2 separate regions of the Homo sapiens genome follow, and region 2 is linked to region 1. The links come from fine-mapping of genetic effects on gene expression. A gene starts in region 1. The other region holds a variant in brackets. All regions are shown on one strand. Distances are between the middles of the regions.

What was found.
Region 2: its variant is fine-mapped to the expression of VAPB in blood mononuclear cells (TOPMed, PIP 0.95).

What each region holds. Positions count from the first base shown.
Region 1 is chr20:58,383,684-58,395,018 of GRCh38, forward strand. It overlaps VAPB (VAMP associated protein B and C), which reads left to right and starts at 5,546. Exons shown (of 6, transcript NM_004738.5): 1 at 5,546-5,834. The coding sequence starts at 5,777. RefSeq lists silencers at 5,255-5,694, 5,955-6,074.
Region 2 is chr20:58,431,914-58,443,248 of GRCh38, forward strand. It overlaps VAPB (VAMP associated protein B and C), which reads left to right. Exons shown (of 6, transcript NM_004738.5): 3 at 2,689-2,792; 4 at 7,032-7,112; 5 at 8,994-9,170. Among named protein-coding and RNA genes, the nearest start is that of VAPB, 48 kb to the left of the region's middle. The variant G/C (reference allele first, on the strand shown) is at 5,972.

The DNA.
Region 1 (11,335 bases):
TGATTACAAGTAATCAATGGCTCATACTGACATCACTACTAATATCATTTGATTGTGACAATGTTCCCACTGAAGTAAGGGCATGGAGAGCCATGGGACTGCCACACTTACATGGTAGTGATGACTTCAGGACCATGGGGTGAGATAGCTATTTCTGAGTTCACTGGAGCTATTATGGAAAGTAAAGGACACGCTCCAATCTTTAAACTCTCAGCTTAACTCACAGAGAACCAGAGAGATTCTACAGAGCCCTAAAATAATCCTTTATTTCTTGTAGTTGTAGATTTTTTTTTTTTTTTGAGATGGAGTTTTGCTCTTGTTGCCCAGGCTGGTGTGCAATGGCATGATCTCGGCTTACTGCAACCTCCGCCTCCCGGATTCAAGCAGTTCTCCTGCCTCAGTCTCCCAAGTAGCTGGGATTACAGGCAGCTCCCACTACGCCCAGCTAATTTTTTGTATTTCTAGTAGAGACGGGGTTTCACTATGTTGGCCAGGTTGGTCCTAAACCCCTGACCTCAAGTGATACACCCGCCTCAGCCTCCCCAAGTGCTGGGATTACAGGCGTGAGCTATCGCACCTGGCCTAGCTGTAGATTTTTGACCTTGCTGAAAATTATACTCAAACTTTAATTGGGTGGGCTGCAGGATTACAACATAAATGGAATTCACACATTTAGCAGAATCTCAAGCAGTGTGTTTGGCTGTGTACTTTGTGTGGCTGAGAAATGACCAAGAGCACAGAGGTGCACGGGCCCCTGGGTAATGGATGATCAGGGACGGAGAGAGCAGATGTGGATGTGTGGTGAGGAGGTCTGGGAGGAGGTACTAGATACCTCTCAGGATGGGTGTGAAGACACTGGTGTCTCGGCCAAGCGCTGTGGCTCATGCCTGTAATCCCAGCACTTTGGGAGGCCAAGGCGGGTGAATCATGAGGTCAGGAGTTCGAGACCATCCTGGCCAACATGGTAAAACCCCGTCTCTACTAAAAATACAAAAAATAGCCGGGCGTGGTGGTGGGCGTCTGTAATCCCAGCTACTTGGGAGGCTGAGGCAGGAGAATTGCTTGAACCCAGGAGGTGGAGGTTGCAGTGAGCCGAGTTCGTGCCACTGCACTCCAGCCTGGGCAACAGAGCAAGACTCCGCCTCTAAATTAAAAAAAAAAAGACACTGGTGTCTCATGTGAATGCCCACTCAAAGACATCTACTGCAGCAGCAACTCTATTAATTGAGTGGACAAGAGGGCACATTCTGCAGACAACAGTCAGTCTTTCCCACAGCTGTGCCATTGCGTGCTCAATGAGCTTATTTATGCAGTGGCCATGGTGGCAGGTGTGGAGGCTCTGTATGGGCTTAGGAACATGGGCTTCCCCTTACCAAAGTGACCCGGCAGAAGAGACCAACACTAAAGCTTTGTTATGGCACCATTCCCTGGGGGAGGGCAGAGGAGCTGGGAACCAGTGTTAAAAAACCTATAAATGTGGCCAGGCACAGTGGCTCATGCCATTAATCTCAGCACTTTGGGAGGCTGAGACGAGCGGATTGCATAAACTCAGGAGCTCGAGACCAGCCTGGGTAATGTGGTGAAATCCCATCTCTACAAAACTTTCAAACATTAGCCGGGTGTGGTGGTGCCTACCTGTAGTTTCAGCTACTCGGGAGGCTGAGGTGGGAGGATGGCTTGAGCCCATGAGGTAGAGGCTGCAGTGAGCCAACATTACACCACTAAACTCCAGCCTGGGCAACAGAGGGAGACCTTGTCTCAAATAATAATTAAAAAAAAAGAAAAAACACAACCTATAACTACTTGGATATGTAAAAGAACAAAATAGAACTTATAGGCTTAAAAAAAAATAAACAAAATGAAAAACTCCTGAAACAGGTTTATCAATAGCCTAAGAGATAATTAGTGACTAGAAGAAAGATCTGAAGAACTATCCAGAACGTGGAACATAAAGAGGACAGATTAAGATGTGATAGAGAGGTTAATAGACATGGAGAAGGGCACAAGACTTTTCTCTTTTTCTTTCACAATCCACAGTAATAAATGTATTTTAGTTGTGACTCACTCCATAGATATGTGTATATTAATAAATACAACTGAAACAAAAGATTCATGAAATAATACAATACACTCCAATATATTATATTCTCGTTCTTTCTCAACACTGGTAACAATCTACTACATTGATTTTATAAGCCACTGTTGGAAAACAACCTACAGTTTGAAAAATATTAGTTGAATAACTACTAATCACACTACAAGATGTAAAGAGTGAGAGAACGAGGTTGAGATAACATTTATTTTTATTTCTTCTTTTTTTGAGACAGGATCTCACTCTGTTACCCCAGGCTGGAGTGCAATGGTATAATGGTTCACTGCAGCCTCCACCTCCTGGGCTCAAGTCCTCCCACCTCAGCCTCCTGAGTAACTGGGATTACAGGCATGCACCACCATGCGTGGCTAATTTTTTTTTTTTTTTTTTTGTATTTTTTGTGGAGATGGGGTTTTACCATGTTGCCCAAGCTGGTCTTGAACTCCTGGATTCAAGCAGTCTGCCCGCCTTGACCTCCTAAATTGCTGAGACTACAGGCATGAACCACTGTGTCCATCCAAGATAACATTTAACAGAGATATTGTCACGTATGATACAACACGGATGAACTTTGGGGACTTTATGCTGGGCAAAATAAGCCAGTCACAAAACGACAAGTATTGTATGATTCTGCTTACAAAAAGTACCTAGACTAGTCAAATTCACAGAGGCAGGATGTGGAATGATGGTTGCCAGGGGCTTAGGAGAGGGAGCATGGGGAATGATTGCTTAAGGGGTACAGAGTTCTAGTTTTGCAAGATGAAGGGAGCTCTAGAGATGGATGATGGTGAGGTCGCACCACAATAGGAATCTTGTTAATACCACTGGATACTTAAAAATGATAGAGAGTAAATTTTATGTGATGTGTATCTTACCACAATAAAAAAGTAAAATTAAATTGAAAAAAAAAAAGTATTGTCTGAGAGTTTTCAAGAATAATGAAAGACACCAATCATCAAATTCAGAAAGCCCAAAGAACTCAAGGCAGGATAAATAAAAAGATAACAGCATGAGCTGGGCATGGTGGCTCACGCCTGTAATCCCAACTTTTTGGGAGGTCGAGGTGGGTGGATTACCTGAGGTCAGGAGTTTGAGACCATCTGGCCAACATGGCAAAACTCTGTCTCTACTGAAAACACAAAAATTAGCTGGGCATGGTGGTGCGTGCCTGTAATCCCAGCGACTCAGGAGGCTGAGGCAGGAGAATCGCTTGAACATGGGAGGCGGAGGTTGCAGTGAGCTGAGATGGCGTCACTGCACTCCAGACTGGGGGACAGAGCGAGACTCCGTCTCAAAAAAAAAAAAAAAAAAAGATACAGCATGGTAAAACTGTAGAACATGAGAAGAGGGAGAAAAGACCAACAACCTATGAAGGAACGATGTTAAGATTGTCACTGGACTCCTGAGGAGCAATGAGGGGGAACAGGCAAACAGTGGATGGCAATCAAGTGTGCTGAGAGAGGACAGCTGTCATTCAAGCAAGCAAGCCAAAATATCTGTCAAGAACAAGGGCAAGGCCAGGCGCAGTGGCTCATGCCTGTAATCCTAGCACTTTGGCGGCTGAAGCAGGAGGATCACTTGAGCCCAGGAGTTTGAAACCAGCCTGGGCAACATAGTGAGATTTTACAGAAAATAAAAAAATTAGCTGGGCGTGGTGGTGCATGCTTTTAGTCCCAGCTACACCGGAGTCTGAGGTGGGAGGATTGTTTCAGCCTGGGAGATACAGGTTGCAGTGAGCCACGATCATGCCACTGCACTCCAGCATGGGCAACAGAGCAAGACCTCATCTCCAAATAAATAAATAAATAAAATAAAAACAACAAAAGGCAAAAATGAATCCATTTGCAGATGAGCAGAAACTGAGAGGATTTGCACCAACGAAGCTACAAAAAAATAAAATTTAAAGGATTTACCTCAGGCAAAAGGAGAGTGATCCTGTTGGTGAAAGCTGAGATGCAAGAAGAAAAGGTGGATAAAAATGGTAATTGTGTGGCTGAATCTAAACTAATGTTGACTGAATAAAACAATTTAGTAATGTCTCTTGGGGTTACAGTGGCAAAGGTTAAACTTAACATACACTACATTAAGGTGTATAATTTAGAGGATGGGTGATTAAAGTACTCCAAAGTCTTTATATTTTAAGGAAACAGGGTAAAGACATTTTTACAAATATTTAAAGATATTGGACTTTCACAAGGTAAGTATGCATGCCCAAAAGTTTGAAGTAACCACTAAAACTTAGAAATAGAGTATACAGGTGAAGAAAATCAGAATGAGAATAAAAATAAACCCTAAAGAAGAAAGGAAAGGGGAAAAAAACCAGGCAGGACAAATAGAAATAACAAAATACAATGGTAGAAATAATTCCAGATATATCAGTAAATATAATAAATGTAAATGGACTAAATGCTCCAGTTAAAATACAAAGACTATTCTTTTAAAAAACCTTTTTATCATGAAAAATTTCAAGTATACAGCAAAGTGGGAGAAACAGTACAAGAAAACCATATACCTGCGATGTAGAGTCAGCCATTGCTAGCAATTTGCCACATTTGTCTCACCTATATGGGTATGTATAGGAGACTATTAAGAACACCTATTTAACTTCCATAGTAAACATAATATAATGAAATACAATTTAAACGGTAATCATGATGTAGAGTATCCACTTTTGAGGTCAAGCAGATCTGGATTCTCCAGCAATTTTTAATTATTTAACTTACGTGTGTGGTTATTTATTCAAAAGATGTCTCTTCACTAGGCTATAGTAAAAGGATTGGAATCAGGTTCGCTTTTCTGATCATTGTATTTCTAAATATTTGTTGCATAAACAAATAGAATTTACTAGTAAAGAATTCAGCACAGTGCCAGTTGCATAGTAAACATTTAACGTAGAGTAGCTTGTATTTATTGTAGTTGCTGTTGTTATTGGAAGCATTCAGTAGAGTGATACAAAATAAATAAGCAATAATTGGTAGTTTATTATATTTATAATTATTATTTACAAGACGTCACAGTGCCTAGCCCATATCACTCACCCATAAACATTATACTTATACTAAGTACTTTCACTATTATTCAAAGTCTCTAACAGTGCCTGGCACTACATAAGCAAGAGAAAAGTGGAAGTTTATTCTAATTGTTATTATTGAATAAAGCACTTAACACGAAGCTGGCCCCCAGCGGGCCCTTAATAGTTTCCGCGGTGGCTGTCGTAGCTGGACTACAGACCCCGCCTCCTGAGCGGCCCGAAGCCCCGCCCCTTACTGCCCCGCAGTCCCGCCCCCGTGGCTTGTGCCGCGCCTGCGCACTGTCCCGGAAGGGGCTCTACGCGCGCAGCTTTAGTCCCCGCCCCTGGAGCCGGCGGCGCAGGGCGCAGCTTCCCGCCGCCAGAGCGGGCCAGCCTGCTGCGTGCGTGCGTGTGTACGACTCTGCGTGCGTGCGTGCGTGCGTGCGTGCCGTCAGCTCGCCGGGCACCGCGGCCTCGCCCTCGCCCTCCGCCCCTGCGCCTGCACCGCGTAGACCGACCCCCCCCCAGCGCGCCCACCCGGTAGAGGACCCCCGCCCGTGCCCCGACCGGTCCCCGCCTTTTTGTAAAACTTAAAGCGGGCGCAGCATTAACGCTTCCCGCCCCGGTGACCTCTCAGGGGTCTCCCCGCCAAAGGTGCTCCGCCGCTAAGGAACATGGCGAAGGTGGAGCAGGTCCTGAGCCTCGAGCCGCAGCACGAGCTCAAATTCCGAGGTAAGCCCCAGAGGCCGCCACCTTCCTGCCCGCGGCCTCCGCCCCAGTGCTGGAAGGACGGAGCCCGGCGCGGCGGGTGACGTCGGCCCTCGTCCCCACCCCGACGGCGCTGTCGCGGGGGGCGGCGAGGCCGGGCCGGGCCTTGGCGCTCGCCGCGCTCCCCAGAACTGCCCGGAGTGGCCGGGACCCGAGAGGGCTGGTGCGGGAGCCGGGGCCTGCGCCTCCTCCCCGACCCCCAGCCTCCTGGGACTTGCCTTCGAGGCACTTGTCACTTTGTAACTTACCAGTTTGTGATCCTCTCTAGTGTGAGCCTCCGCCGCTGCCTTTGCCTAGAAGTTTCTTCCCCTGCTCCGTGACAGTGTTGACCTCAGGGCTTAGTTGAGGTGTCAGCTGCTCAGAGAGGCCTGCTGTGACCACCCAGCCACCGTGCACACCTGCTGTCATTCCCTATTCCGTCACTGTTTCGTGGTCAGCACGGCACTTTTCATACCCAAAATCACTGTTTCAATACTAGAAGGGAAACTGCATGAGGACAGGCTCTTGTCAGTTCGCTGCTGTGTACCCAGCACACATTATACGCCTAGTAAATAAATACCTGTTGAACCAACAGATGAACATGTTGAACCAACAAATGAACCTCCTCAGGACTTCTGATGGGATTGGGCCCATTTTCCTTTCACTGCGTCCCTCATGCTGTCTCCTGGTTGCGGTGCAAGGAGGCTGCCACGGTGCTGGGATCCTTTTTCTCCGCAGAGCTGTCTGGAGCAACACCTGCGGCGATGGGAAGCCATGACCCTGGTTTCTCCCAGATACTATTACCTCTGTAATTTGTGCCTTTATGTTTTCTATGTTGTTACTTTTGTTTTTTTTTTTTTTTTCCTACCTTCACCAGGGCCACGAGGTAAAAGTTCTTGTCTGACATGCTCATTCTTTCTTTTTGCGTGTATCCAGTGATGTGGGAGGCTCTGGGGAGGTGATGGATGCACAAGACAGATAAGGCCTCTGCTCTCACAGAGCTTACCTTCCGACGAGGACAGACAAACCAACACACAAGATCATTGCAGATAGTGCTAAGTGCTGTGTAGGAAATGGAACAGTCTGACTCCATGGAAGCGTACTTTAGATTGGAAGGCCGGGTCTCCACTATATCGCTAGCACCGGACTCACAGTAGATGCTCAGTTGGTATTTATGAATGAATGAATGGCCAGAGGCTCTCCAGTTTATATGTCCTATTGGGAAGTAGTGTAGGGTAACTTACCCAAAGTTACCCAGTTGGCAAATGGTACATTTGAACCCAGACTTCAGAGTTCACGCTCTTAACCGTTTTGCTGTCTGATCGCTGGGAAATACTCCAGAACGGTGGCTGTCACTTTGCCTTCCAAGTTAACAATGTGAAATAACTCTGAATTTACAGAGAACCAAAGGCTTTCCAATTAAAATGAAAAAACCGAAAAACCCCACCAAACCTACCGTGGATTGTAATTCCAGGATAGTACTTGAGCTTTCATGATGTTCTCATGGCCTTCTGGGGATGCCAGATTGGGAAAGAAGTCCAGGTAGCTAAAGTGAAAATAGTGAGCCTTAGTTTCCACTTGAGTTGTCTGAAGTTCTTTCTCTATCTGGGAGGCCTGGCTTGGCTTCTCCTGATAATTGGTGGGTTCATTCGGTTAGTCCACAAACATTTACTGAGTACCTGATCTGTGTGTCAGATACCCAGAGAAGCCAAGTTATATCAGCTGTACTCTCCTATTTTCCCTCAACCTCCTCCCAGTACTTTAGGGAAGGGGGCAGATGAGAATAACAGCCAGGACAGGACAATGATGTAGGGTAGTCCAGAGTGCTCCAGGAGCATTGAGGAGGTCAACTCCTGAAAGAGGTGTCATTTGAGCTCAGTTATAAAGGTCGAGTAGAAGAAGGCTCAAAGAAGGAAAGGGTGGGGAACATTTCAGACAGAGGAAATTGCATGCACAGAGGCACAAACACTGAGATGACTGGGCTCCTTTGGGATGCCACTAGTAGTTTTTTTTTTTTTGAGATAGAGTTCTCACTCTGTCACCCAGGCTGGAGTGCAGAGGCGCCATCTCACTGCAGCCTCTGCCTCCCAGGTTCAAGTGATTCTCCTGCCTCAGCCTCTTGAGTAGCTGGGATTACATACAGGCATGTGCCACTACGCCTGGCTAAATTTTGTATTTTTAGTAGAGACGGTGTTTCACTATGTTGGCCAGGCTGGTCTCAAACTCCGGACCTCAAGTGATCCGCCCTCCTTGGCCTCTCAAAGTGCTGGGATTACAGGCGTGAGCCCGGCCACCACTAGTGGTTCTGAATGACAGCAACAAAGAACATTTGTTGTGGTTGCCTGGCAAGATGGGAGACAAGGCTGGTGAGTAGACAAGAGTCAGATCTCAGTCCCTTTATGCATAGATGCAGCCAGTGTCCAAGTTAAAATTGTGTTGCTTCTCCTTGAGCAGTCCTTCCTTGCATTAACTTTCTGAAAACCCCCAAATCCCAGTACAAACTCTGTTGTCTAATATGTTATGGAAAGAGGCACTCATTTGAGAAAATTTAAGATTTTGTTCAATTGTTTTACTGAAAGATGTGTGACCTTAGGCCACTTCACTCCTCAAAGCCTGGGGTGGTTATTCGGTCAATGGGGATGATGCTCGTGTCCACGTTGCCTCTTGTAGAACGTGTTTAGAAGGAATGACATGGCTGTTAGTGGCTTTGTAAGTGCATAGTACTATACAGAGATTAGACAACCACTTAACTACTTAAGTGGTTTCATCACTTCTGTACCTGAAAGGTGTGGCAGAGAATAGCGATCATTCTGGCCCTGGATTGGCCAAAGTAATTATGCCAAAGTCACTGGATATTTTTGCTAGGGAAGTGGTCCAAGAGAAGTGGTACCAAATTGTTGAAGGCCTCTGGCTCATAACTTTAGAAGAGACATCTGTGTGTGTTCTTAAATGACGTCATGAGGTGTGTTGTTTGTTTGTTTTAAACTGAATGCTAAGACAGTACAATTAATAGAGACTGAATACCCTGACTTAGAGATAATTCATTTCAGGATGAGAAATGGCACATTTAACTGGTTTCTTCCAGGTTACTCAGGGTGACGACTCTGATTTCTGGTCGTTCACCTAGATGAACCTCTGAGCTAACTTTACTTGAGAAGGTAATAACTAAAATGCCCATTCAAAGGAAAAATTATCTTTTAAATGCAGCCTAAGTTGATCGTATGGGATTGTATATTGTCAGACTCTTTAATCTTGGGAATTTTGTGTGGTATGTTAAATTTAAGGATGTTACAGAAGAAAAAGAATGCAAATTTATATGACTTTATGCAGTTTTATAGGAAGTACTATGCTGCATCATAAATATCAAAAGGAGAAAGCCTGGTGGCTTCCTGAAAGAAGCATGACACAGGAGGATTTGCCTAGACTTAAGGTTGACTTTCATGAGATATTTTTAGTAAGTGAACATTAAGCTCTTTCAGACTAGGGGTATCTTTCTGAGAGAGTAAATGTTTTTGTTTTTTGGCAGGGTCTTGCTCTGTCACCCAGGCTGGAGGGCAGTGGTGCCATCATAGCTCACTGTAGCCTCAAACTCCTGGGCTCAAGAGATCCTCCTGCTTTAGGTTCCCTGGTAGCTAGGACTACAGATGCCACCATTCCTGGCTAATTTTTAAATTTTTTTGTAAAGATAGAGTCTTGCCATGTTGCCCAGGCTGGTCTTGAATTCCTGGCCTCAAGCAGTCCTCCCGCCTCAGCCTTCCAAAGTGCTGGGATTACAGGCATGAGCCACTGCATGCAGCCTAAGTGTGTGTTTTCTTTTATATTTCTTTTTGTCTTTTTCACTAAGTCATAGGAGTTTTTTAAAATTGTCACTCTTTCTGTTGATCTCAGTTCTTCCAAGTCCTAATCGTTTCCTTGCCATCTCCTCACTCTGAGATCCCACTTGTTGTCCAGCTCAAAGAGAGCTTTCCGAATGAGTCACTTTCAAGGCATTATATAGCACTCTTCTTTCATTCCCTTCTCCCTCCCCTTCCATGAGAGTCCATCTGTGGTAAATAGTATGTCATATATTTTTTGGTCGTTCAGGACTCTAGATCATTCCTTACATCCTAGCCCATTCCCCCAGCAATGATACTGTCACATGGAAATGGTCTGTTGAACATCCATCCTCACTAGGTTAAGGTTTGTTTTGTTTTGTTTTGTTTTGTTTTGTTTTTTTTGAGATGGAGTTTGGCTCTTGTTGCTCAGGCTGGAGTGCAATGGCGCGATCTTGGCTCACCGCAACCTCCGCCTCCCGGGTTCAAGCACTTCTCCTGCCTCAGCCTCCCGAGTAGCTGGGATTACAGGCATGCGCCACCATGCCCGGCTAATTTTGTACTTTCAATAGAGACAGGGTTTCTCCCTGTTGGTCAGGCTGGTCTCGAACTCCCGACCTCAGGTGATCCACCCACCTCGGCCTCCCAAAGTGCTGGGATGATAGGTGTGCGCCACTGCACCCAGCCGGTTAAGGTTTAAACATAACTGTGGATGCATTTACTTTTGCTTTATTGCTTGACTGAACCAATGACCTTCAAGAAGTCTTAGATAGTCCTGCCATTAGTAGGGATCTCAGATGGGAGGGCACCAATGAATCAGTGTAGTTGAGTACCACTTTTGGGAGAAAATAGAAACTTGGACACTCTAAATGATAGTTTAAGGACGTTGTTTGTTTTGTTTTGTTTTTTGTATGGGAAAAGTTGGCTTAGACTCTTTAGTTCAGCCCTTCAAGTTGATGTGTAATTTAAGATTGTTTAGGAAGTTAAAAAATCTAAAGCCCTGTGGATATAGTTCATTCAGTGCAGTAATTATCTTTCAGATGCCAAGTACAGCATTAATTCTTTAGCTTTAGCATGGCACTGATTTTCTTAACACTTCATGATCACGTGGAGCAGACTGTGCTTTACAGCACAACAGAGCGTCAGCCATGTGCTGAAGATTCTTCGTGGTAGTGGTTTAGATCCACCCTGAATAGATTATCTTCATTTATTTAATTATTAAGTAGCTTGCTTATCAAAAGCGGCATTAAACTTACTAAACTTGAGTCAAACGTAAATCTTCATAGATAGTACCATTTACTTCTGAAATCTTGTTCCTGGGAGAAAAATGTGGACTGGAAGTTAACTTTCTTTTATCCACCTATTCACTCCTTTTTCTTCACAGTTAACTCCTTAGGGGAAAAAATGTATAGTTCTTGACCATGTGCTTATGTTTGTAAAGCAATGATGTTTCCTTAACGTGAGTGGTTGTGACATAGATCACTGTTATCTTCATAATTACCTGGGAGCTTTTCATCCAAGTGTGGATTTACTAAAATAATTAGTCTGAATTGATGCTTATTAAAGAGCTGAACTCTTAAACGTTAACACTATCTTGTATTTATTAAAATTGTATGCATGTTTCCTTCAAATGCTGAAGGCAGAATACTGAGAACTTTGACCCTGTGTTATTAT
Region 2 (11,335 bases), 48 kb after region 1:
AGTAGTAAATGGGAGCACTAAGGAGAATTTGCCTTCTATGGTACCTATTACACAGGAGGCATGAGTAAAGATTCTTTTCCTTTCTTTCCTTCTTGGGCCATCATGAAAGTATTGGGGATGAAGAAGCTGAGGGATGATGGAGAAATGGAAAGGAAGGACCTGTTTTCCCTTGGGGCATTCTTAGAACCCAGGCAGAGCTCTGGACACAGTGCTCTTGGCTGTACTTTTTTACTCCCACTGCCTCTAGGAAGGTGATGAATGGGAAGGGGCAGGCAGAGCTTCCTGGGGCTGTTTTTTGGGGGTGTGTTCTGTTCTCTGGACCCATTGGTTTTTGTATTTCATCTAAATAGCTTCTCTAAAAATTAGCATTTTCCTTGGATTGCTGTCATGTGAGCATCAGGGATCTTTACAAATAAACCTTGTTCCTCCTCAGAGCTCTCCAGAGTGGTAGACTTGGGAGTGGTGCAATAGCTGTTCACAGCTGGGAGAACAGAGTCTCAAGGGTAAGACGGTGTTTACTACTAGATCTGTGCCCTGCCAAAAATCTAAGAGTAGTTCAGGTCAAAGTTCTCTTCTTTCCTAAACTGAAAAATACCAGAGCATGATTTTGTCACAGCCAAGGAAGACCTGAAATTCTTAAAACTGAATTCACTTTAATTTTAGAAAGGGAACATTAATCTAACAGTGAATCCCAGCTCCAAAGAAGGTTGACAGTCCCTGTCCAGGAAGGTTCACAGAGCATGTAAAGACATTGGCTCTTTACTTTAAAATGTGTGTTTTCGTTATTGCAATCTTAGGGGCAGGAAAAAAACACATTGGGAATTTGGCTTTCAGAAAAAGCATTGACCTGCCAGTCTGGTCATTTGTCCCTGAGGTTAAGTGTCAAGCCCAGGTCGGTAAATGTTCCAGGTCTGTCTGTAGGAAAGGTCAGCTCTTGCCAGCTCAGTGATGCCAGAGAAAGAGTTATGTTGATAAAAGGTTTACTCTCTGACAGTTATTGAATTTTGTCCTGAAGAAGTCTCCCAGCAAGGCTTCCTTGTAGCTCAGGGCCTTCAGGTGGGTCTTGTGGGCAGTGAAGCTGTCTGGGTGACTAGGGACACCAGTGCATTTAAGTCCAATGCATGGTTAGGTCTCAGTGGACTTTCTCTGTTCCCATGGTGAAGAGTGCTACTGCATCCCTAAGATGGATGGGGGAGGTTGGTATTTCTATCCTGTTTTGTGAATGGTTCCATTAGCTTTGTCGTGGGGCCTGGGTGCCAGATATAAATCTAGCTCATATTGGAGTGACTAGTGTGGTGAAAGGGGTGCTAGACTGCACTTGTAGTCAAGTCTTGGCTCTTTGTCCCAGTGTTGCCACTTCTTAACATTGTGACTTTGAGGGAGCCACTTCACTTTGTGGAATCCCAGATTCTTCATTTGTAGACCACGGCTATCCTGCTTTCTATCTGCTGCTGGCTGTGGTTGATTGTGTGGCTCTAGAGGAAGCACCTGGGAAGTCCTAAGTTGGGGTTTCAAGGCAAGAGAATGCTGATGAGGGCCCAGCAGAAAGGTGGTAGAAGCCCTGCTGGTGAGAAGCATAAGACTTGTACTGTCAGAGGACAAGGCACCAGTCCTTTGTGGTGGCTGTGAACTTAGGTCCCCACACCAACTGCCTGGGTTTGAGTCTGCACTCCACCAAGGTGTAACCTTGGGCAAATTCACCTCTCTGTGTTCATTCTTTTCATGTGAAAAGTAGACACCAGAATAGCCCCTCTCCCCCAACAATAGTACCTACTTTTTAAGGATTAAATGAGATGATGGTAAACCTAAGGGACAGAGCCCAGTTTCTGGCACATGGAGATACTCAGTCCATGCCCACTGTTGTGGTCAAGGCCACAGTAGGCTTTCCCTGCATGTGAAGTTGTCTCAGGGAACTTAACTAGATGTGTGGGTTAGCCAAAGCCTTGTAGCAAAGTAACATATTTTAAAGCAGCCATCATTTGATAGGAGTAGGCCCAGCTGTACTCTAGGAAGTAGGCTGAAGGGAGCCACTTGGGGTAGGAAGGCACCTCCCTCCATGCAGTGGGTGTGACTCATCCACAGGATCCTCTGTGTGAGATTTCTCTAGGTTCTTAGGGAAAAAAAAGGGGGAGTATAAGCTGATACCGTTTTCCCTGCTGTGTGAGTGTCCTGATTGTAAAAATTTTCTAGCTTTATGTTGGCAAAATTGTATTTCAAGGATTACCTTGATTAGCTATATGAGAAATGGGTTGGAGAGAAGCTACAACAGTTCCTTAAATGTTCTTAAACATCTTAGATTATTCTATTTAATTCCTGAAGAGATCATTTGGATATGTTTTCTTGAGCAAAACAGGCAGATGGTGTTGCTACCCAGTTTCCCAATTCTGTAAGGCCTGTAGCAGACATTTACGGTAGGCTTGCAGTAGTGAAAGATCCATGGACTAGGAATCAGAAGACTGGGTCCTCGGCCTTATTCCCAGCTCTGTCATGCGTGATTTTGTGGCTCTTAGGTTGGTGACCTGCAAAATGGAGATGTTGGTCATCCTTGCTTACTTCACCAGGGGCGTCCATCCTAAGACATAAGAGAATGCCGGTAAATTGCTTTACAACCAAAGTACAAGTATTAGCATAATAAATGGCACTGACAACCAAGCTCTGACCCTCCTAATGAAATATTTTCTTTCTCAGTGATGTTACAGCCTTTCGATTATGATCCCAATGAGAAAAGTAAACACAAGTTTATGGTTCAGTCTATGTTTGCTCCAACTGACACTTCAGATATGGAAGCAGTAGTAAGTACTGAATGCTTCTTATTTTTTTCAGTAACAATAATTTAAAAAACCAATTAGATATGGAATTGTGGGTGCATGCATTTCAAAATATGTCAAAATTATTTAAAAGGGAATAGTTTTTTTTCAAGGAGGTTTGTACTTTATCTACCTTTATGGTTTTTCTAAAACTTTGAGGAATAATTTTAACATTTTTTGTGACTTTCTAGAAGGCTGTTCTTTTCTGACTTTCCTGAGCTCAGTGTGCTTCAGCAGCTCCTTGCACTGGTGGATGGTGTCTTGCATGGTTAGGGATTGCCTTCTTTCGCCTCTCCTTTCTGCCCCGACAGAAAAGGATACTTTTCATTGTCCCGCCTTTTTCTTACTTGTCTTCTCATCCCCCACAAACTCAAGAGCCATGTGAGAGTGTCAGTGCTGAATGTCCTCACCCATTTAGACATACATGTTTGTGGCTTTGTTCTAGTAAATATGCTTATTTATTTTCCCCCCTGCTTAAATCTATGTTTAACTTTTCTCTAATTTTGATAAAATTAAGATGACTTCATTTTTATAAAAGAAATAAGTGATGTTAGTGATGGTTTTGGAAAAAAAAAAAAGAGTATAATGGACATTCCCTCCAAAACGAGCTTTTTATACATTTGAATAAGTCCATTGGCATTCTGGGGCTGGGAGTTGAATTGAAATCTACAATACAACCCACAGCCCCAGCAGGGACAGATGCGCTTGTCCTTACAGTTCAGGAAAGCAGGACAGGGTTGCCTCATACCACTTGCATTGCTCTCCAGTTTTGGCCCGCCCAAAGGGGAGCCCCGAGTCATCCACGGCAGGTCTGCCCACCTGAGTCCGCTGTTCATCACACCATACTGCAGTTCTCCTCTGTCTGAGTTTCATACCAAGGGCAACTCAGGCCAAGACCACCCCATGCCCTATGTCACCACATAGCCTTTTGTTTAAGTTCTGGAGAAGCATCTCCGCTGATGTTTCACTTGTAGGCAGAAAATGAAGGAGGAGGCCAGATATTTTTGACTTTTAGAGAGATCAGTGATAATAGGCTGTCTTCTTTTCATAAGAACAATTCTTATGAAAACTTTCTCTGATTTTCTGCAACATGATGTGTTACTTCATGTTAATTTGTGTGATCAAAGAAACATGGCAGATAGAAAATAATGGAAGATCCAAGGGTGTGTTCTGTTTGGCTTCTGCTGCATGGCATAGTGAAAAGAGCATGGGCTTGGGTGTTTTCGAGCTGAGTTCTTCCTTTTACTGACGTTGTGGCTGGGAGCAGGTTTTATTAACTCTGTTGAGGTTTTGATCATTTGTAAAATAGGGATAAAAATGCAGCTCACACAGTGGTGAGTATGAAGTGTGCCTGTGTAAGTGCCTGGTGGGTCCAGTGTCTGACACTTGCTTATCAGAGTGTGTAATAGGCCAGTCACTGCATATCTAGTAAAGGGTCATTTTAGTTCCTTGTATGATGATATAAGTTTAAATTTTTTTTATATAAAATGTACATTGTGGGAAATTTTGGAAATACACAAATGAAAAAAATTTAAAGTGACCCATAGTTCTTTTCTACTAGGCCTAACCATCATTAATGAGAAATGAGAGCTTTGTGTTTTTCTTCCTTTTTTTTTTTTTTTTTTTTTTTGGAGACATGATTTTACTGTGTCACCTAGGCTGGAATGCAGTGGAGTGATCTCAGCTCGCTGCAGCCTCCACCTCCTGGGCTCAAGTGATCCTCCCACCTCAGCCTCCCAAGTAGCTGGGACCACAGGAGCGCACCACCATGCCTGGCTAATTTTTTTGTAGAGACAGGTTTTCTCCATGTTGCCCAAGCTGGTCTCAAACTCCTGGACTCAAGCGATCTGCCCACCTCAGCCTCCCAAAGTGGTAGGATTACAGGCATGAGCCACTGCCCCAGCCTGCTTTTTCTTTATTTTAAAATGTTTTTCTTTTTATTGTGATATACAGAAAGTTGAAAAAATAGCATGGTGACCACTCATATAACTTTTACCTAGATTTACATTTGTTAACATGTTGTGACATTTGCTTCCTTTCTGTCACAAACTTTCTTATTTGCTTGAGATGCAAATTTATGACACTTCACCCCTAAATGCTTCAGAGCAAGGACAGTCTCTTATATAGTCATGATACTATTAATCATAGCTGAAAAAAGTAACTTCAATTCAGTATTATTATGTGATAAATTCATATTCATTATTTCCTAGTTGTTCCAAAAGTGACCTTTAGTAGAGGACACCCAAACCTTTTTGTTTTTCAAACTTTGAACTTTTTTTTTTTTTTTTTTTTTTTTTGAGACAAAGTCTTGCTTTGTCACCAAGGCTGAAGTGCAGTGGTGCAGTCATGGCTTGACCTCCACCTCAGCTGTTCGAGTAACTAAAACTACAGGCATGCCACCATGCCGGCTATTTTTTTATTTTTTTATAGAGTTGGGGTCTCACTATGTTGCCCAGGCTGGTCTTGAACTTCTGGGCTCAAGTGATCCTCCTGCCTCTGCCTCTCGAAGTGCTGGGATTACAGGTGTGAGCCACTGCACCCTGCCCAAACTTTGAACTTCTTTTTTTTTTTAAGAGTCCAGGCCAGTTGACTTACAGAATGTCCTGTATTCTGGATTTATTTGATTATTTCCTCATGATTAAATTCAAGTTAAATGTGTTTTGGCAAGAATATTCCATAGTTGGTATTTCATACCAGGTTGTTCCGCTGTTGGTGATGCTGTTTGATCACTTGGTTAAGATGGTGACTGCCAGCTCTCTCCACTGTCATAGCACAAAGCACATTTGCCCCTGTGGTTAATAGGTAATCTGTGATACTCTGAGTCATCTGATACTTTGAGACCATGTGAATATCCTGCTCGCCAGCAGTCTTTCACCTGGTGCTTTTAGCATTCAGTGATGATCCTTGCTTGATATTTTTTTTGACTTATGTGGTAGGCACACGTGTACAGGTGTGTGTGTGCAGAGGAGCAGACTTCAGTATTCTTTGCGATTTTTTCACTTAACATTCTGGACATTTTCTCCATCTAACTGAGTGCTCTTCAGCATCATTTGAGTGGCAGCATGCTGTTCCGTTTAGTGGATCTGCCATAATTTTTGTGGCAGTCCCCTAGGGTCAGATGTATAGATTGCTTCCCACTTTTGGTTCTTGGTACCTGTGTTACA[G/C]TAGCTGCCTCTTGCATGGTTTTGGGAAGGGTTGAGGGCATGGAGGGTGGGGGTGCCTTCTTTTTCTATATCATAACCTTGCTGCTATCCTGGTCTGTAATCCTAGAATACCCTGGAATTCCCATCTTCTGCTGCCAAAAGGAGAAGTAATCAGGAGCGTATCCTCTTAGGACATGGGATTTAGCTAGGAAGGTGCTCTCACTACAGCCTGGAGGGATGGAGATGGGTCTTGGGGTAGACACAGCCCACACACTGCCACAGTGACAGAGGAGGGATTTGGTAATGAATGTGTTCCGTTGGTAGTTGGCAGAGTGGTTCTGAAACTAGTCCCAGATAGTATGCGCTTATACTTTCTAGATATGCCTTTAAAATAAGTTTCATTTTCTCATTTTAATTTAATTTATTATTTTTGAGACAGAGTCTCTCAGTGTCCCCCAGCCTGGAGTACAGTGGCATGATCATGGCTCACTGCAGCCTCCACCTCCTGGGCCCAAGTGATCCTCCCTCCTCAGCCTCCTGAGTAGCTGGGACCACAGGCATGTGCCTCCATGCTTAGCTAATTTTTTAATTTTTTTGTAGAGATGACGTCTCCTTACGTTGTGCAGACTGGTCTCAAACTGCTGGGCTCAACCAGTCCCTCCACCTCAGCCTCCCAAAGTGCTGGGATTACAGGCATAAGCCACCATGCCCAGCTGAAAACAAGTTTTATTTTCATAAGGAGAGCCAAGGTTACCTGGTCATCCAGACATTGTTTAGAGGATTCCTTTTTGTTCAGTGGTGGGCCTGTCCCACAGAGTAGCAACATGGGGAGCATTGGTTGACTTTGAGGAGTCAGGCAGCAAGACTTCAGGGTTTATGAAGTGTAATATTTTGAGAAAGTGAGTGTATTTAATCTTGTCATGTTACAAATATTGAAATCTCAGCAGACTTCAGTTCTTTATTTGATATACATCAGGGCTTTCTCATTAAGAGTATTTTTCTGAAATTGTCAGTTATAGGAAGAAAGTTATTCTTCCAGCAGGTTTATAATATCTTGATTATTAAATTTAAATTGTTTTAGTGGAAGGAGGCAAAACCGGAAGACCTTATGGATTCAAAACTTAGATGTGTGTTTGAATTGCCAGCAGAGAATGATAAACCAGTAAGTATATTTATAGTTAACAATAATTGAATGTTGTAAGCTGATACTTATTTGCATACCATTTCCTGCAAAACCAAGATTTAAGTTGGCAAATTATTTTCCTTTATCTGATGTCTGAAGAAAAAAAATAAGCTGAAGTCAGCAAATAAGTGGGCCTTTATGAAATCAGCCTTTGAAAAACTCACGGAAAGACAACTGATTGACAGTGTTTCCCCTTGAAAAGTGCAGCCCGATGGCCATTGAGATGTCATAAATCCTGAAGAGCTTCTGTGGCCTGGCAAAGGTATAGGTTGCTGTTAAACAGTGGGTGAGAGTGAAAGAGGGAACAATTTGCCCTTTATCATGGTGGTTGATGGACGTGTGGGAAGCTTTCAAGTTCTCTTGTTTTACAAAGTGCCCTGTCAGCCTCCCTACCCCTTTTACCCTATCTACCTCTTCAATCAAAGGCTGCTTTTAGATGAGGATTTCTCAGCCTCAACACTGTTGATATTTGGGGCAAATCCTTGGTGGTGGTGGAGGTTGCCCTGTGTACTGTAGGGTGTTTTATTAATAGCAGCATCCCTGGCTTCTGCCCTCTTGATACTGGTAGTACTTCCCAGTTGTGACAACTAAAAATGTCTCCAGATATTGCCACATGTGTCCTGGAGGGCAATATCAACCCCCATTGAGAGTGATCCCATTCCGGTGTTGCCTGTGGGGAGAAGGAAGGAGCCCCATCCTCTAGGCTGTCCACTGTGAGCGCTTTACCTTTCATGATCCTCACTTGTGACCAGTTGAAGAAAGGAGACTGTATCTGAAATGCTAATTTGGACTTCCCTTCAACCTAGTCGAAAACATTTTAATTTTTATAAAAACACCAAAACTGTGAAAGCATGCAGCATGTGAAACTATCCTAGCCATTAATAGCTGGAGTTGGGAAACAGAAGTACCCTGAAATGTTGTGTTAACAGTATCTATGTTGGTCTGCGCGAGTGCTGTTGATTTGTGTCAAAACTACCTGAGATTTTATTTCTGCTGAATCATTTACCACTATCATTACCCTGTTTCTTTAAGTGGATAGTGGTCATTTTTTCCCTCTTCCCAGTGTACATCCTGTCACAGGAAGGTCAGTTTGGAAGCTGTGAAAGCAGTATTCTGGCCTCAGCTCTGTGATAGGTTGACTTGGTAGCCTGGGGCCTTGCTTCACAGGGCCTACTCTTCTCATCTGGAAAATGATGGGTAGAGCTAGATTCCAGGCCAATGATCGTCAGTTACTCTTTCCCTGACAAGCTGCGTGCTTCCATGCCCTCCCTCCACTGACTGGCTCTCATCCCCTGTAAATCTCAAGAGGGGATCATAGCTGAATCTTGGCAGGGGAAATAAGGGGAGTATGTAACTTCCCAAGATTGAAACATTGCAGACACTGAGTTTGTTTCACCTTCATCCCAGCTTCCAAATGCTAAGTTGGTAAAGTAATTCGCCCTCTGTCTAATGCTCTCCCAAGCCTCCTAACCCCACTAAGGCAATCCTAGGGATGTTCACATCTTTGTGGTGACAGTAATTTGTGGCTAATAATTCCTGAGCTTGCACAATTACAGTATGCTGATTTTTCCGTGGCAGGAATTTGATAGTGCAATATACACAGCCCTTTTTCTCTTTCTTTGAAGTATTAGTCTCAGCCGAACTTCATTATTTGCCCTTATCCATAATTTCTAGGGCCCTGTTGCTTTAGATTATTAAGATATCAGATAAAGTAATCCATTTTTAAAATAAATGTGACATTTTACAGTGTGGATGAAATGCTACCACGTTTGGTGTTTGCTGAGAACTACTTTACTTTGCATAAAAAAGTCCATTATTACATGGTCGGTGACACTTAGGCTTTCATTTGTTTTTGAACAGCATGATGTAGAAATAAATAAAATTATATCCACAACTGCATCAAAGACAGAAACACCAATAGTGTCTAAGTCTCTGAGTTCTTCTTTGGATGACACCGAAGTTAAGAAGGTTATGGAAGAATGTAAGAGGCTGCAAGGTGAAGTTCAGAGGCTACGGGAGGAGAACAAGCAGTTCAAGGTAATAGTTTATTTTCTGGTAATCTACAGAAAACAAGGGCGTTTTCACTAGCTTCTTGGGTGGGGAAGTTGATGAGCCAGTGAATATATAGATTTCTTTTTGCTTTTGGTATTTGGCTATTTTTTTCTCCCCAGGGAGAAATTTCCATGGCTTTCATGAGAGTCTCAAAAGGGTCCTTGGATCTGCCTAAATTAAGAACCACTGTCCCTTGATCAGAAATTTCTCAACTGTTGAAGCTCTTGTCCCCTTAAAAAAAAAAACAAAAACAAAAAACTTGGCCGGGTGCGGTGGCTCACGCCTGTAATCCCAGCACTTTGGGAGGCCAAGGCGGGCCGATCACAAGGTCAAGCGTTCAAGACCAGCCTGGCCAACAAAGTGAAACCCCGTCTCTAATAAAAAATACAAAAAATTAGTTGGGTGTGGTGGCAGGTGCCTGTAATTCCAGCCACTCGGGAGGCTGAGGCAGGAGAATCGCTTGAACCCAGGAGGCGGAGGTTGCAGTGAGCTGAGATCGTGCCACTGCCCTCCAGCCTGGGTGACAGAGCTAGACTTCGTCTCAAAAACAAAATAAACAAAACCCCAAACAACTCAAACTCTCCATTATTGTAAATTGAAAATAAATGTTGAGACCAAAATAGTTTTTATTTTGAATATGCATTTTTAAACCACTTGGGTGAGAATCTTTTTTCAGAGAGTGAATACTGACCTATACTCTGTTTTAATGCAAGTATAGTTCTGATTTTAGAAGACTCTAAATAGGTCTGGGCAGTTGTGGCTCATCAAACTATTGATGTGGTGATGAGCTTGGAGGTGGGGTGCCTCACAGTGGGTAGGAGGTGGAGATTATGGAAGGAAAATCTGAGCTTCTAGCTTCTGGATGAGGCAGTTGGCATTGGCAATGGAAGGTTGTATTGTACTGAGTGATGAAGTGGGGAGGCAGGGGGTGCTTCTTTTGGCTTGTGGTGGTGTGGAAGTTGCTCCCATCCAATATGAAACAGCTCTGAATCTGTGCTGGTCACAGCATCTCTTAGGCCTCTGTTTGCTAAACACCTCTAAGGCCCCTTCCAGCTTTAAAAGTATGAGTTTTCTTCTCTTTTACTCTGACAGTGAGGTAGATATAGGAGAACTGACAGCATTTGGGAAATGGCATCATCTTCTTCCTTTGCAGTGATTTTGATTTGCCTCAGTCAGTAATTTCTTTAGTGTGTAGTAAATTGTGAAGCTGACACTACTTTTTGGCTAAAAATCTAAGCTATGCCTGAAGCTTCTCGAGTGTATTTCTCTTCTGAAACAGAGTTCTGTGCTATTTAAAGTGGTAAATAGGTAGAAATAGCTTCTATATAACCTAATAAAATAAATGGTTTAGTTTGCCGGGTTTTTTTTTAAGCCAGTCGGACACCACCAGTTGTTTATCACTGTGCAGTGATACGGGCCATGCCCCATGAGCAGAATATCCTTAAAATATGATCAGACCAATCTCAACATTAGAAGATTCTTTATCCTGCCAAACACTGCCTTCTTGTTTTGTGTTGGTTTATTCTGTCATCTGGCCAACAAATTTACTGAGGGTCTAATATGTGCCCGGCACTGTGGATTCAAACACGAACAGCCCCTGCCCTTGAGGAGCTCTCTGTTGTTGGGATAGCAGGGAGAGACATAGACAGAAGTGATTACAAGCCAGTGTGATCAATGTCCCACAGAGATAGCAACAAATTGCAGGGAGAGTCAGCTCCATGGGACTCATCTGCCTGTGGTCCCCAGGACCTACTAGGTACTCGGGCGGATGGGAGCGAATGGAAGGAAACGAAGAAAAGAAAGTACAGCTGGTGTGTGGGGTTTAAGGATGAGGAGATGAGGTAATTAGCAAGAGATCTATCAGCAAAGATGAGTCTGTGCCAGAATAGAATGGCTTGATGCATGTCCCTCTTCAGGGATGTGGGCTTGGCTTTGAGAGCATGGAAATGGCATCATAGATCTACATAGTAACTTGCAGATTCTTAGGAAAGTGCAAGGCAGTTGTGGCAGTGGAGGTGAAGGAAGAAAAAATTTTTCATTTCTTACATTTCCATGTAGTTTGGGGACAAGGGGAGGGTGGGGAATATGGTCAAATATCTTTATATGTATGAAAAAGAATGTTGCTTCTTCAATGAGAAATCTATGCATTA